4 separate regions of the Homo sapiens genome follow, and all the other regions are reported to be linked to region 2. Evidence: microRNA targets listed by miRTarBase, many of them from high-throughput screens and not tested one by one. Region 2 holds a microRNA gene; each other region holds the end of a gene's coding sequence.

Evidence for each region. Region 2 holds the annotated microRNA hsa-miR-4503 (UUUAAGCAGGAAAUAGAAUUUA, at 2,073-2,094, shown strand). A microRNA usually pairs through its seed, bases 2 to 8, with sites in the 3' UTR of a target mRNA and lowers its output. Matches are read on the target gene's strand: a 7mer-m8 pairs with bases 2 to 8, a 7mer-A1 pairs with bases 2 to 7 and ends in A, and an 8mer does both.
Region 1: miRTarBase lists CLTB as a target of hsa-miR-4503. Seed matches in the 3' UTR shown: 7mer-A1 at 456-462.
Region 3: the mRNA of CAPS2 is a reported target of hsa-miR-4503. Seed matches in the 3' UTR shown: 7mer-m8 at 1,532-1,538, 8mer at 853-860 and 7mer-A1 at 835-841.
Region 4: miRTarBase lists CHD1 as a target of hsa-miR-4503. Seed matches in the 3' UTR shown: 7mer-m8 at 1,868-1,874.

Annotation. Positions count from the first base shown.
Region 1 is chr5:176,388,977-176,392,976 of GRCh38, reverse strand. It overlaps CLTB (clathrin light chain B), which reads left to right. Exons shown (of 6, transcript NM_007097.5): 6 at 32-476. The coding sequence ends at 203. HIGD2A (HIG1 hypoxia inducible domain family member 2A) reads right to left here. Exons shown (of 2, transcript NM_138820.4): 2 at 3,216-3,646. The coding sequence ends at 3,480. It also overlaps a transcript of ARL10 not described here. Among named protein-coding and RNA genes, the nearest start is that of HIGD2A, 2.2 kb to the right of the region's middle. RefSeq lists enhancers at 3,024-3,707, 3,529-3,748, 3,949-4,000, 3,541-4,000.
Region 2 is chr14:36,950,226-36,954,451 of GRCh38, reverse strand. It overlaps MIR4503 (microRNA 4503), which reads left to right and starts at 2,061; the gene lies at 2,061-2,143. All of the region lies in intron 1 of SLC25A21 (solute carrier family 25 member 21), which reads left to right.
Region 3 is chr12:75,275,361-75,279,586 of GRCh38, forward strand. It overlaps CAPS2 (calcyphosine 2), which reads right to left. Exons shown (of 17, transcript NM_001355024.4): 17 at 619-3,705. The coding sequence ends at 3,530. All of the region lies in intron 2 of CAPS2-AS1 (CAPS2 antisense RNA 1), which reads left to right. Among named protein-coding and RNA genes, the nearest start is that of CAPS2-AS1, 19 kb to the left of the region's middle.
Region 4 is chr5:98,852,547-98,856,772 of GRCh38, forward strand. It overlaps CHD1 (chromodomain helicase DNA binding protein 1), which reads right to left. Exons shown (of 36, transcript NM_001270.4): 36 at 1,439-4,179. The coding sequence ends at 3,834. Among named protein-coding and RNA genes, the nearest start is that of CHD1-DT, 74 kb to the right of the region's middle.

The DNA of each region.
Region 1 (4,000 bases), not on the chromosome of region 2:
CTATAAAAGCCCGTCCTATCTCCACCCGCAGGGCATCCGAGGAGGCTTTCGTGAAGGAATCCAAGGAGGAGACCCCAGGCACAGAGTGGGAGAAGGTGGCCCAGCTATGTGACTTCAACCCCAAGAGCAGCAAGCAGTGCAAAGATGTGTCCCGCCTGCGCTCGGTGCTCATGTCCCTGAAGCAGACGCCACTGTCCCGCTAGGTGCCTGCTAGGTGCATGGCCACAGAGCATGGGCTGGGCCTGGGCACAGGAGGAGCAGCTGCTTTGGTCGGGGTGGAGACTCGCAGCAGCTGCTACCCACAGCCTATTCCACTCCTCCCCATCTCCAGGCGCTGGGAGGGGGGCCCTCACCCCATCACGCCTCGCTCCCTCCTGGCCCTCTGGTCCAGCCCCTCACGCCTCCTCTCAGTCTACTCAATTGTGACTGTCCCTCCTGATGTATTTTTTTTCTTGGCTTAAAGGGTGTGTTGTTGACTCTTTTTACACTTATTTATTATCATTCTCACTTCTCTGGAAGCCACAACTGGTGTCAGGGCTCGGTTTGTGCTTAGAACTTTCCCAGCTTCATGACCTTGAGAGAAGGGAGAATGTTCCCCCATTTCCCAGCCAAGTGGGAGCCCCAAGCTCTCCATGTCTGTTGCCTCCACCTCCAGGAGGAAAGACAGCCTCTCGCAGAATGCTTTTGTAACCTCGATCCTTTAACAAGTCTGTGAGGTAAATTCTGTTATTCTCACCATATAACCAAGGACACCAAGGTTCCCAGAGGGGAAGTGGCTTGTAGTGGGAGGGAAAAGCGAGACCAGAGGTTCCTGGTGGTAGCTTCCTCCTAAGCCTGGGTAAGAGCCCTGAAGACCCATGAGACTCCCCTCCTTAGGGTTGGCTGGGACCTTCTGGATGTGGAGGGTCCACTGCCCTGTGTATTTCGCTTCCTCCTTCAACTGGGCTCATCTTGGATTTTGGATAAACAACCAGTGATCACACCTTCTTCCCCTTCAGCAGAGTTTGCAAACAGGACGTTCATGACCTGCATGATGTTTAAAAAGATTTGAGTAATTGCCAGTAAATATTAGCTTCCTAGGGCTTCTGTAAGAAGGTACATGAACTAGCTGGCTTAGAACAGAAATTTATTGTCTCATAGTTCTTGAGGCCAGAAATCTGAAATCAAGCTGTGGCAGAGCCATGCTCCCTCTGAAGGAGCTGGGGAAGGGTCTGTTCCACCTGCTTCTGGCTTCTGGTAGCCTCAGGCATCCCTTAGCTGGCAGACGCATCACCCCAATCCTGCCCCCATCAGGTGGCTGTTTGCACATTGCCTTCTAGGTATGTCTGTCTTTGTGGCCAAATCTTCGTTTTCTGTTTTTTTTCTCAAACAGGGTCTCGCTTTATCACTGAGGCTGGAGTGCAGTGGTGCAATCTCAGCTCACTGCAGCCTCAACTTCCTTGGGTCAGGCAATCCTTCCACCTCAGCCTCTCAGGTAGCTGGGACTACAGGCACGTGCCACCACATTTGGCTAATCTTTGTATTTTTAGTAGAGACGGGGCTTTGCCATGTCACCCAGGCTGGGCAAACTCCTGGGCTCAAGCAATTTATCCACTTTGGCCTCCCAAAGTGCTGGGATTACAGGGATGAACCATAGCACCCAGCCTAAGGTCAAATTCTAAGGCACTAGAAGGACTTCAACATTTTTGGAGGGGGACACCATGACACCAACACTTACAAACAGTGGTCATCACTCCATGTCCTTGTCTTGTATCTGGATGCCAAGGGTCACCACAGTGCACTGCTCTACATCTATCATCTCTGCCTCAAAGCTGAGAGAACATGGTGGAGGCAAGCAACTTAGCTGGCCCTAGTACAGCCCTCCACTGAGATCTAGACTGTTGGGGGGTTCAAGAAGGGGTGTGTCTTCACTCCCTTTTTCCTTCTGCCAGCTTGAAGCTGGTGTTGAAAACAGTACAATCACTCGGGAAGAGCGCAGGTCCTCAAATCCAACATTTGAGGAGCGCTGACCACAGACCAGGAATACTTGTTTGAAACTACATGAAGGAGGAACTAACAGGTCACCTCTCTTCTAGAGTGTGCTCAGGTCCTCAGCCTCCTCTTCCAGAACCCTCAAACACTATGTACACAAATCTCTGGAGAGCTTCGGGACTGTGTTCTTCCCACTGTACCAGACTGCTTCTCTGAGCCTGTTTCCTCTTCTATACTGTGTCAAGAACCAGATGGTCTAGGCTGGGCGTGGTGGCTCACGTCTGTAATCCCAGCACTTTGGGAGGCCGAGGTTGGGGGATTACCTGAGGTCAGGAGTTCAAGACCAGCCTGGCCAACATGGTGAAACCATGTTGTTTTAGTATTCTACTAAAAATACGAAATACAAAAATTAGCCGGGCGTGGTGGCACACACCTGTAATCCCAGCTACTCGGGAGGCTGAGGCAGGAAAATTGCTTGAGCCCGGGAGGCGGAGGTTGCAGTGAGCCGAGATTCTGCCACTGCACTCCAGCCTGGCTGACACAGTGAGACTCGTCTCAAAAAAAGAACTAGATGGTCTAGATCAGTGGAGCCCCATAGACTCTAGGGAGGTGGGAGCAGGGTGAGGAGGTTATGCGGAGTGGAGGGCAGAACCCTCTGCCTCTGACCCGACTATGGGAGGCCTCATCTGAAGGAAGGTTGTCCTACTGAAAGTCTGAAAAACTGCTGGCTAGACCAGTATTTTTCAAATGGCATTACTCTAGGCCCACTGAACTAGAATCTCAAGGAGTGACCTTGAGATTCTTTTTTTTTTTTTTTTTTTTTGAGATGGAGTTTTGCTCTTGTTGCCCAGGCTGAAGTGCAATGGCGCGATCTCAGCTCACCACAACCTCCGCCTCCCGGGTTCAAGTGATTCTCCTGCCTCAGCCTCGCGAGTAGCTGGGATTACAGGCACGCAACACCACGCCCAGCTAATTTTGTATTTTTAGTAGAGATGGGGTTTCTCCATGTTGGTCAGGCTGGTCTTGAACTCTTGACCTCAGGTGATCCGCTCGCTTCGGCCTCCCAGAGTGCTGGGATTACAGGTGTGAGCCACTGCGCCTGGCCAAATCTCTGCTTTCAAAGTGCCCTGGGTGGCTGTTACTAGGAAAGTTCGGGAATCACTAGACTACACGATTTCTAAGCACCACTCCAAAGTCCGTTTCCTCCAAAATCAAAGACCAAAAACCATGGGGATGATACTGAATTAAATACAAGTGGATTTTTAGAGTTTATTAAGCAGGGGAGTGGAGGGGAGATGTGGCACAAATAGAAGTATGTAACATTCAAACAACAGCATCTAGGATTTTTGAAAAAACTTTCGGTTACAGTTACACAAAGGGTCACTTCCTCCCCAGCGACACATGGGCCTCTCAAAGGAGAGGAGGGAGTAAGTCCCACGGTAGGGCCAGTGGTTGCTCCCTGGGTTTTGGAATCATTTCTGCGGAGCTTTCAAGGCCAGACCCTGGGCTTAGGGTCGAGACTTCATAGCAGTGACAGCCAGACCCAGCAAGATGGCTGCGACCGTGAAACCCTGGGCGGCGATCCGGGTGCGCATCATGAGCTGAGAGCGCTGGCTGTTGCCCCGGTGGAAGGAGTAGAGGCCGTAGGTGAGGGCGGCCGCCGTGGCCAGGCAACCTGAGGAGGGGACAAAGCAACTGGGAAACAGCAGGTCGGGCCCCGCAGGTCATTCCCCGCTTTGGGTCTCGCTTCCCCAAAGCCAAGATCTCTGGATCACAGCGGAGGGAGGGCGGCGAGGGTAGGTCGAGTCGAGGTCTTCCTAGTTACAGAGTCCTCCCAATCTTAGGCCCCAAATCCCGCCCCCTAAACCCGCTGCTCCCGCTCCAATCAGTTTCGCCCCTCACCGCCCCGCCCCCTCGTCTCTTCTCTAGTCCGCTCTCCTTCCGCTCCCCGCTAGCGCTCTGGTCCTTCTCTACTTCCTTCCCTCCGACATCACTGTCCTCTCCTTGTGCAGTTCCTACCGCACCCACT
Region 2 (4,226 bases):
ACCTAAGTTGGGGTCAGATCAGCAAGGACGTTGGGAAGTCAAGCTAGAGATTTCAGGCCTTCCTCTGTAGTTAGTAAGGAGAAATGGAAAGTCTTTAGCAGACGAGGATTATGCTAAGGAGGACTTCTCTAGGATGGGGGGAGGATAAAGACAACAAAGGTGGAGAGGCCAGTTGGGAGGTCCTGATGAGAGGGAGAGAATTCCGTAAAAGGGTGTGGAGAAGAAACATGAGGCAGAAATTACAAAGGACAATCAGAGACATTTTTTACTGGGGATGATGCATCAAGATTGACTTTCAGGTTTCAGCTGAGTGACTATGATAATTAATAAAAATGAGAGCAGGTTTAGAAGAGATGGGACGATCAGTTTGGTTGTGGCCACCAGTATGATAGTCTGGTTCTACAGAATCATGTTGTATTCACCTTTGACTCTCCAGTTTCTAATACATTGTAGATGTCAAATAAAGTCAGAATGTTATTGAAAAAACTAATTATTCCATGTGAAGATGTCCAGTAGGCAGTTGGAAAACCAAGCTATTTACAATTTTTTTCCCTTCAGAGTGTCTGGCACATAATATACACTTAAGCATGTATTAAATATCTAATAAATTTAATATTTCTTAACCACAAGAGTGTCTAAAATGCCTATGTGGTAAGTATTTTTGAAGAAATTCCTCTATTGTGATGATAATTTCCGAAGTGACAGATTTATACTCTGTCTTTCCAATTAATAGCAAATGTAGTATTTGAAATACTGTTTATGGTCTTATGCTGAAAAAATTTTTATGTTGAAAAACTTTGTGCCAAAATGAGTTTCTGCCAGTAAGGAACACTAACTTTTAGCCATTTGTTTGCGATATGAAATAAAGAAAATTATCTAAGAATTTTTACCTCTGTTCATTTTGTCATCTACTGAATGTTAACCTACATTGTGCAGGGATTCATATTTTTTTCAGTTTTGAGCTAACCACTTATAAACTTCACAATCGTGTTTTGTTCTGTTTTGACTTTTTCTTTGTATTTTGTATTTCTGACTATATATGCTATCTATATGACTATATAGTGAGATGTATGACTAAATTTTATTAATATCATCTGTTTATGCCATCTTTATGTTATAAACAATGTGAATCTTTTGGGCTACATAGAAAAATATTAGTATGAGCTTTGTTATTTAGCTCAGCCTGCCATTTACACAAAGCAGCCCAAAAATATCTTGCTATATTTATATGAAATTCAAAAGTTGATGATTAAGAAACATTTTAAAGTTCAAGCACATTGCTGATTAGTAATAGCTTATAGTACATCTTGTTATCGTTAACTAAATATTTTCTGATATTCAACCCTTGATAACCAAAAGCAGTGTTTAGACATGGACCATAATACAGGCAATTGATACCTCAAAACTAAATAGATAGAGGCAGAGGTAGAATAGCAAAATGATAAAAATCAAATTCCACAACACCACTGAAGGATCCAGAGAACACTGGATAGCCACAGCTTGATGATAGATGAGTAACCAGATCTAAATGCTCTGTAAATAGCCCGTCATTTGAGAGAAGTCTTCTTGAATATCCCGTTCTTCATTCCTGAAACATGACAACTTGGGAACCAAACCCAAGCTACAGAAGGTGTAGTCTTTTTGCCCAAGGCCACACCCTTGCTGACTGGATAAAAATGGGACCCTTGTATTTGGGGATTTATTGTCACAACGCTAAGGAATCACTGTTTTTGTTTTGTCTTGTTTTTACCCTTAGTTATTTTATCATGGCATTCCCAAGAATTGTCAGTTTAAACCCCAAGGATCTGGAAAATGGTGGGACTTTTTTTAAGTCTAGACTTATTCGGTCTACAGTTTGTTTCTAATACAATGTCATTTGTCCTTGCTCAGGATGAGACTCCTACATTTAGTGACCATTTACATGTGATAGTATAGTAATAAAATTAAGAAAAGAATTCTACCTTTTAAGAAACTTATCAACAGAAACAATAGACATGTAAATATAAGAATCTTTAAGAACAAGAAATAATAAATGACTTCCTCCCCACAAATTGAAATTGACAATGTAGATATTTAAGCAGGAAATAGAATTTACATATAAATTTCTATTTGTTTCTATTTCCTGCTTAAATATCTACATTGCCAAAAACCAAAGGAAAGAAGACAATCATTTATTTATTCTACTCTGATTCTTTCTTTTTTCTTTCTTTCTTTTCTTTTTGAGATGGAATCTTGCTCTATTGCCCAGGCTGGAGTGCAGTGGCGCAATCTCGGCTCACTGCACCTCCACCTCCTAGGCTCAGGTGATTCTCCTGCCTCAGCCTGTGAGTAGCTGGGATTACAGGCACGCACCACCATGCCCAGTTAATTTTGTATTTTTAGTAGAGATGGGGTTTCATCATGTTGGCCAGGCTGGTCTTGAACTTCTGACCTAAGTGATCTGCCCTCCTTGGCCTCCCAAAGTGCTGGGATTACAGGCATGAGCCACTGCACCCTGCCTGATTCTCTTTTATTGGCCCAAGTTTACTCTGCTTTCATTGTACCTGAAGCAAGACTACCTGAAGCATGGGCAAAAATGAAGTCATTGCAGGAGTCCTCTACTTGTAGTATATGTAACCAGCGAATCATTTTGTGGGCTTTCAGAATGCAGGGTCTTAGCAGTTGTGATCTCTGGATAACCTAGAAGCCTGTATTAGAAGCTCTGAATTGATTCTGTGTTGTTTGTGTGTAGAATTGTGCAATATTTCCACCAGCCAGGCCTAGACTGGATCATCTTAATAGTTATTGAATTGCTTTAGTACTATTATTTTAAATTATTTGTTGATGCTTTTGCAAAACAATTCTTTGCAAAAAAAAAATGCATACCTTGCACAAATATTTAGACATAAGGACTTTGTTGAATGGACGTGTCTGTGGATAAGAGAGGCCCTATTTGTTTTATTTGCTCCAGCAACATGGCTAGAATAATCAAGGTCTGTTCATTGGTTTGTAAGGGGTTTGGCTTTGAGATGCAGAGAGTTCAATAATTTAGAGACAGTGCTGTGGAAAAAATAGTGGAAATAATATAACTAGTCAGCAATCCCTGCATTTCCTGTTTATTATTATTTTTTAACATTCTCTTTCTATTTTAAGGTATTATGTTGCTTGAATCCTCTTTCTAAACAGAATTGATTGCTTTAAAGTAGGCTATTTGGTTATAGTTTTTTTTTTTTTTTTGTAATGGCAGTAGAGAAGGCAAACTATTGTTAAACTATTGCTCTTTTTGTGTATTTTTAAAGAAGTAGTGAGTAGTTTTTGGTTAGTGGTTTAGTTACCAAAACATTGTCTCTGAAACAGATAGAGAAGACTGCCTCTAGGGTATATGACAGATGGGGTTGACTTCAGGTTGCTTTGTTTTTCTTCTGGAGAGTTAGGGGGCAGAGAGGGCTCACTGTGGTTCCTGCAGCCATTGCTGAGGAAATGGAGGGTGTAGAGCCTTGAGCTCCTGGAGAGCAGTTGTGGAGGGGAGCCTAGAATATGCATTCCTTGCTGCAATTCCAGGTTTTTCCAGAAAATGAGAGAGAGGTAAGAGGTCCAGCTGGCTCATTTCTTCAGCTAGGTATTTGCAAAACAAATAATTTGAGTATTCCCGTGCAATAAGAATGTCAGTTGGATGTTAGGTTGTGGGGAAACAAGCTGCTGACTCTGTATCAAGTAATTGATTAGCTTCATACAAGAAACTTACTCAGTATTTCCCACACTGCCCTTGAACTAGAATGCAAATTCCCAGTAGCCAGGGGCTATGTCTGTTCACCGTTTGCATCTCCTAAACATAATAGGAATTGTGAATTCATTTGCTAGGGCTGCCATAACAATATACCACAGACTGGGTGGCTTAAATAACAGAAATTTATTTTCTCTTAGTTCTAGAGGCCAAAAATCCAGGATCAAGGTGCCGGCAGGTTGGTTGCTGGTGGGACCTTTCTTCCTGGCTTGCAGATGGCAACTTTCTTGCTATGTTCTCATGTGACCTTCAGGAAGAAATATATCTTCGGTATTTCTTCCTCTTCTTATAAAGATATTAGTCCTATTGGATGAAGGTCCTTCTTACGACCCCATTTAATCTTAATTACCACCTTAACAGCCCTATCTCCAAATGTAGTCACATTAGGATTAGGATTTTAACCTATGAATTGGGGGGCACAGTTCAATCCATAACAAGCTAATCAAAGTTTATTGGATAAATA
Region 3 (4,226 bases), not on the chromosome of region 2:
ACATTATTCTTAAGGTAGTATTTGAAGATCAGTATGAATTAATTTAATGCACTAAGTGCAGAAAATAATTTTGGATAAAAGTAGCAGAACAGATATGAAAGCGCAGAGGCTGGAAATCTCACAATCCATTTTAAAGGCTGTTACATAGTTCAGAATGACTGGAAGAATGTGGGGAGTGAGCTGAGTATAGGGAGATGAGCTTAAGAAAACCAGATCTTTTAGGTTTTATGTGTTAAGGTCAGAGATTGAACTTTTCTGAGAGATATGAGGTATCAGGGAAGAATTTTATTCAGGAAGTAATGTATATTGTAAAAGGGCATTCCAACATCAATGGGTTCAAACAAGATTGAGAAGGAGGCAGAGTTGATGAGGGGGAGTACACATGAGAAGTGGTAAGAATTTGAACTAAGGCATAAGCATTGAAAACAGTGAACGAGAGAGATTTAAACAACCAATGGATAAATTCAAGAACCAATAGCACCTGAGACTGAGTGGATAATAGAGAGTGTGAGAAAAATCTAGAATATCTCAGAGCCTTGGCCTACTGCAAGGGTAGTGCCACTCACCCTGTACAAACAACTGACTAGCAGAATAAATAATGATTAAGTGCACAGTGGCTCCAATATGAAACATTTATTCTTTATTAAGTACATCCAAGAAATCAGTTTACCTCAGAAGTTTATAGAACTTTAAAATAAAAATGGAACGATATGTATGACAAGAGCCTCTTCTCATGATCAGAAACGAATACATCCATGTCCACCCTGCAGATTGTCTTTGCTCTTCTCTTGCTTGGCTTATTTTATATATGCCCATTACCTTCTATTTCTTTGTTTTAAGCGCTTTCTTTTTTTTAAGCATTTTCATGTTTGTCCTTGCTGGTCAACCTAGTAGTGATTATAGTTTATCAGGGTACATGTTTTATATTTGCAAGCACTACAAACTATAATCTCATAAAAGCATGTTACATAATCTGCAGTAAACATAGCCTAATGTACACAATTCTCTCCTGAAATACTTGATAACAAACAACTTAAACTGGAAGTCAAAAGTAATATGTAAAATAAGATATGATCTACAGCTGTATCAAGATTATTAATTACTCTAAGTGACTGCCTCTATGCAGAGTCGCTGGTTCATTAGCACATATATTTATATACTATAAAATTTAAAACAGGGACATACATGTTTAACTATAATGTGATTGCTCCATCATGCAAATATGTATGTCCTTTCCATTAAAAGTTAGCTTAAAATTCCTATATAATATACCTTGTCTTTTTAATAAAATGTTTTTCCTTAAAATTCTCAACTTTTATTTTTAAAATATAAAAACAGAAAAATCAGTATATACAATTCCATAAACAGTATGGTTAACTGAGAAAGCAATTATATAGCATACAAGCAAGTAACTTACAAAGACATAGAGATCTATAAAATATACATAACTATAAAATTCATGTAACAGCATTACAACATATAATTTAATATTTTAACATTTTCAAAAGGTCTTTTAGAATTACAAAGACTATTAAGCATAGGATTTCAAAAGTCAGTTGTGTTGTGGATGTTTGAAATGTCACTTCTCTTAAATGCTCTTTTATTAAGTTTAACACTAAATAACAGATTTTACTATACCAAAATCAAAGAAGAATGCAGGCAGTCAGGCAAATCCAAAAGCAGAATGATTTACTGTGTCACCAATTCTAACAAAATACACCAAAAAAAATCTCATAAATAGAGCTATTTCCTACAAATAACCACATGTGAATGCTTATGTTAGGAAGATTAAGATTAATACTAAGAGTATGCTGTCATGTTAACACGTTACATTCCAAAAGTAGCTTCCCTTTTTTTTTTTTTTTACAGTATAACAGACTATACATTTTCTGATTATAGTAACAGAAAAATGTGACATGCCAACATTAAGAACAGGTTTCTTAAGAACTAAATAAAAATTATCAATGAAAAACACTATATGCATATTGAGCACCCCCAGTATTAGTCATTTTTAACAAGAACAATTTGTAGGGTTTAAGATGTCTATAGTTGGATAAATTTTTCCAAGAAAAAGATATGTGACAAAAATAGTGTTATAGACTTATTTCTGCCAAAATGTCTTCTAGCATATTGTTTTAATTTTAATAACCTAATTTTTAAAAAAATCAAGAAATAAAGAATTTAGCCAGTGAAAATAGCACTAGAGGTTTACACATATTTTCCCTCTCATGTTTTAGTATTAAGTTTTAGTACCTTCTCACATCTTGAAAAGTGCAACTTTGAATTTGTTGGGTTCACATGTATCACACTTCTCATGTTGCTGCCAAGTATAGATGGATACAGTGATATGTCTAAAGTCATATTCTACAAAGTAAATATTTTCATTTTGAATCACTTATTTTTTCTAATTTATGTTATATTAACATAGAAAATTTAAAATTATGAAGTTGAAAACAACTCATAAAGTTGTCTCTTTTCTCTGTATTCCCAGGAAGAAATGACTAGCAAAGAATTTAGAAAGAATGATTATAATACATGTAACTATTAAATAACATATATTTAGAAGGAAATGTTTCAATTGTTTGTTATACTAAAACAGATGTTTAGAATATCATACATTCATTTTAGGATACAAAATATGCTTTCACATTTTAGGCAATAATTACTGAACTATTCCTTGGATTCATATATGCAACAATATACTTTTAGGATCTTTGTTTAATAAGATAATGTATTGATTTTAATAAAGAACATTTCCCTTTCATATTGCTCAATAACAATCGTATGCTGGTAAAAAGGATTACAGTTAAAAAGCAGAATAAAAGAACAAATACAACTGGGCATTAGAATAACTACATTGTGCTCTATTTAACCAACAACAGTACATAATTTAGAAGACAGATTTAAAAGACAAGTCAGTATTTAAATGAGCATCATGGGGTAAACCTCCATCATTTGAAATATTCTATATACAGAAAACATCTATAATCACACTGCTTGAAAAATTTCTCTTGCATATCCTTTAATATTTTCATGTGTTAAAAACACATTGAATTATCTCACTGGCTTTGGGCCCAATTCTAATTTATCAAATTGACCATGGTGGCAAATATATTCTGAGGAAGAGGTAGCAAAAAACAATGTGAAAGGACAGGAAACTTGGTTAATAAATAGATGTTGCCATATTGTTTGATGCAGATGTAACTTTCCTACTGAAGTTAATAAAAAATGACCTCTAAAATATACGCAAGATAAGTAATAAACCAAAAAGATATCTTTACAAATGTAAGGACATGTGAACAGGCATACACATGCACAAACACTAACACACCCCTACATCTATCTTTCTGGATAGTTCTCTTTCCAAATTCAACATTTTTGAGAAAACAAAACAAAACAAAACAAACAAACAAGAAACCAGAATAAAGGAAGTCCTAGGAAAATATATTCCAGTGTTTGATCATCCTTTACATTGATATCATCTCTCCAATAAAATGCTTAGTGTTGATGACATATGTATTATTAAAGACTAAATCCCCCATGGAGTACGTAAGATGTTAACAAAGTCTTCATCATCTACTATTCCTATACTTAAACCTTCATAGTAATCTTCAAATTCACCATATGACACTTCATCAGACTTGCTGCAGGCAACTTTTAATGTTTCTAGAAAGGATGATTTGATTTCTTCCTCTGTTGAATGGCCTATAAAATAGTACTGAGTATGAAACAGTTTCCTGAAAAGTTCAGTGAAATGACTGATGATGATAAAGGAATACTTAATCATCTTATGAAATACTTTCAACAATTTGAAATCTTTTGTCAAACTACCAGCCAATTTATTTACACATGAACTGGAATTATTTCATCTCATTCGATTTGCCACTCCTTCCCTGCCCCCTGCTCTCCTGCACTGATCTATCTCCAGGATCCCAGCACAGAACACAGTTTTTTTGATCATAAATTTTTAAAAAGAACAGAGGAATTGAAAGATGAAAGGAAGCTATAGTGACTGGTCAGATAACACTGAAAAGAGAATAAACAGAGGCCCATATATAATAGTAGAAAAAGGGTCAAAAATTTCTATGTGACCCTCTAAAACGTTTTAAAGTCAGGTTATGCTTTAAATAACAGGCTTAGATGGGAATACTACTCAAACCATTTGTCTAATGGGGTGGACAAAATTAAGGTGAGAGTTAATTTTTTTTCCCTCAAACCAGAGGTTC
Region 4 (4,226 bases), not on the chromosome of region 2:
GTAAGAGGCAACAGCTGATAAAAAAAGAAATTTAAAAAAAATAAATAAATAAAACCACCACACCAGGACTTAATATAGTCAGCCTGCAGAACACTAGAGACAAATCAAAGATTTGAAAAGTAAACAGAAGGAATAAAAAAAAGTAACTAGTGGCAGTTCCATAGCTCATTCTAGATTGGAAATCTAATTAATATTAGTCAACAATAATGAAATGATAATACATCACACATTTTTCAGTCACATAAAGTTTGCATATCACCAACGGAAACAATATCCTTAGCTCATTTAATAGAATCATTAGGAGTTTTAGACTGTTCATACCTCTTTAGTTTCATATTTAGATCAGGACTCAAATGTGGAGTAGAACATCGAATTAAAATAATTTCATTCATTTGGGAGTTGGAACTACAAATTTTGTTTCAAATATAGATGTAATTTTTTTTTTAAGCTAAAGGGCAGAGTGGTTAGTGGCCTTTTAGTGTAGAAAATCCAGCACATGAAGCCCCATTAGAGAATTTGTATAGGTACTTGGAACAACCTTTTAACATTTTTCATTAATCCTACTTTCCCCAGTAATCTCATCTTTCATCCTTTTACACCATAGCTAAGATTTCCTATTCCTAGATCTTCCTATGAGAATTCAATGAATTTCTGTAATGGAGTCAACCTATTAGGTCCTAATTTTTTAAAGAAAATTAGCATGAAGTGTTCTACAAAATCAATTACTAGTTATTGTCAGAAAATATAATCTCAAACTTTCTTCCAAATATCTATAATTGAATCTTAGAAATTTTCACACACATTTTGACACTATCTCAAAATATTTGTCGCATTACTATCTAGTTGTGTCCTCTATAACATCCTCCATTCACTACAATTATTGTACAATGCTAAAATGTATCTAAGTTTTGTCTGCATTTTCAAATTGAGTATTTAATGTATATTTAATAGAGGCATCTATATTAATGTGCTTTTACATATTAACTCAGAAATATTTTAAAATATTTTTGCAGTTTCCTATGAAGCTGAAAGTCGTTTTTTAAAATCCTGTATTTAAAAATTAGTTGCTCTTCCAAATCCCTATCCCTTTTTAAGCTGTTGTATTTATAAAGCTATTTGTATTTATAAAGCTATGACAGCTAATTTGGGGTGCAAAGATTATTTTCTAGTTAGAAATAGTAATGGGGTAGAGTAAAAATCAGGCCATTTACTCCTAGAGCATATTCTTGATAAACTTCATGAAAATGAATAACCTACTCAACCTTTTCATATTAACTACAAAAAGAAATTATAATTTATATTACATAAAATTAAAAAGGTTCTCATTAAGCTACTCACTCTGAAAATAAAATTATTCAAACTCATTTTCCATAGTCTGAAAATTAATTTCTAACATACTCTAAACAAAGAATATCTTTATAAGCAAACAGGCTATTGCTTTTAGTAAGAATTATTTATTGTATAAAAGTGGAAGGTTAATTGGTACAGTACTATACATAATCTCTCACCCTTGAAAAATTAAACATAACTGGATAAAAATAACAAAGCAGAATGAAAACAGAATATTTTATGGAGAATGTTCTGCTATATTTATGTACTAATGTTCTTCACCATTGCGTCTTAATTTTTCTGATTTCTTACAAAAATGAACATATTTTATCATTTGATAAATGTACATACAGTTCTATATTTTTCATTCAACTCAGCTAACTAGCTGACTGAAACTTTCAACTAAATGTAGCACTATTTAAAAAATTAGAGCCTTATCTCAGAAAATGCAACATTGTTCTGTGAAATTTGCACAATATAATGCAAATATCTTAGCTTTTAGTAATAAATTAAAAAATGCCAGCCACCATCTTATGACTTAAGCATTATGAATTAGTCAAATGCTATCTTGTGGAATAAAATAGTCATACTAAATGTAGAGAAAAGTGATAAAAGTTTCAAAAATGTGTGCCAGGACTACCTTCATTACTTTTATATTTAATTATAAATTAGATGTTTAAAAAACTGAGCTACTCCCTCACATGTTCTCTCATATACCAGAAAAGAAACAAAGCATTATTATTCTTCAGGGTAACTGTATCAGAAAGAGAAATTACTGCAAAAAACAAAACAAAAAGCAAAAAAACCCACAAGCTTTTATACACATAAACCTAATTGGACAAAGGAAAATATTAAAAAATACACCTATGGACAAATATCTGTAGGTTGCTCCCACAGCTAATTAACAGTGACACACATAGCAATACTATAGAAATTATGTCCACATACTTATATTCGTCAAAGATTCAAATTTGTTACATCAAAGCATACATGCAAGAATGTGTGCCACATGACTTAAAAACTTCCCGCTGAATATAAAACAAAATAAAAATCTGTGAATAAATATAAAGCATCCCATAATAATATCTGTAGGAAGCCAAAAGGGGCCAACAAAAATGTCTATGACCTAAGTTTTACTTCATAGGAATATTCATAGTCTCCAAAACAGATTTAGTTGTAATGCTACACATTACAAATATTCAACTGCTTACCAAAATACTTTTTCTGGCAGCAAAATGTTACTTAAAAACGGGGGTAGGGGGCGGTGGTGGTGGTGGTAAGTGCTTGAGGGAGTAAGAATGCAGCAGAAAATTACAGGAGCCCACATATCCTTTTTCTTAAATTTAATTTGTCATATATAACGTTTTTATATACAATCAGTGTGCATTGTAACAGTTTATATTAAAAGTCAATCAAGTTTATCTAAAATGTTAACCTGGCTGCATAGCACATTTGACATTATTGCCCACATAAAACGGGAAAACAAACGGATTTACAATAACTTTTGGCCGTTTTGGATTCTGAAAAGTGTTTATACACCTACCCTTTTAAACCAGATGCATCTGAAAAAAGTGTTTCCAGAGCATGCAGTTTAGATTTTACATATCTCGCCATTTTTTAAAACTACAAACACAATATTGACTAAAAAAGGAAAAAAAAGGGAATAACATGTATCTAATAAAATATTCAGTATAAAAAGAGGACTAATGGAATTAAGTGGCCCCTTTCCCCATTTTTACATTCTAAACAATGATTCCATCAAGACAAATCATTAAAAAGTGTTATTACACTGATTTTTTTTTTTTTAATAAGAAGGCCTGAGTTGGTAGGGAAAGGAACAGTCAAAAAAAGCCTGAGAAAGGGAAGGAAGTAAGGAAAGTTCCTTTAATATTTACAATAATTTACAGCCATTTTTTTTGTAAAAAGGCATAATAGATCACAAACAGGAAATTCCTGGCTATTTTACAGATATAAGTACAGAATTTAAATATTCAAGCTTGTGATGAAAAGCGGCAAGGTGGTCGCAGTGTACAATGTAAACAAGTAGCTTTGGAAATGAACAAAGTCCTTGAGTGTTTTTCTTTATTAAGAAAGAACTCTCTTTCATTCCTTCCTGAAACATGATCACAGGTCAGAGTAAAGTTCATATATAAACATAATTTAAATGGAGGTCAGTCTAAAATCACTGACTTAAAAACAGTTTTATCCAGCCTGTATGGGAGGGCAGTGTTGAGGTCCCTGTAATAGTAAACATTTTCCATTTCTTTAAAAAAGAAAACAAAAAAAAGTACTACAATTTTGTAGTACAGTGCAGCATAATCCTTAAATATAAAAATATTTTCTCTTCTGTTGGGATAATAGACCTTGCATCCTGGAAAGAAGTAACAATACTGCTACTGATAGAAGATCTGTTTATATCTTTCAAGTCATGTAAGGCAATTACTGTGTTGGTTTATGATATATGGCTAAAAGAAAAGTCCAGAAAGACGAAGTATCAGTTTTTGTTATGTTTTCCGACTACTCCAGGTATGCTCCGGTGTACTTTTGTGTTCAACTGAATGTTCAAATGGAGATCTGGAGCCATAAGGAGATCTCTGATCTAGTGGTGACCTAGGGCCACTGCTGGAAGCTCTGTGGTCCATTTGCCAGTCTGAGTGATACCTATAATCCCTGGAAGATTTATGGTGCGTATATTCAGAACTTGACCGGTGGTCTGAATGTAACCGATGATCTGAGTGAGAACGATGATCAGAATGAGATCTATCTTTTAAACTTCCTTCCAAATTTGACCTGTGATCTCTACTCCTGTGATCATCCAGTTTTCTGTGTTTCTCTCTGTCACTGTAATATCTAATAAAGAAAAATTGAGAATTTTAGACAAATCATGCAAATTAAAA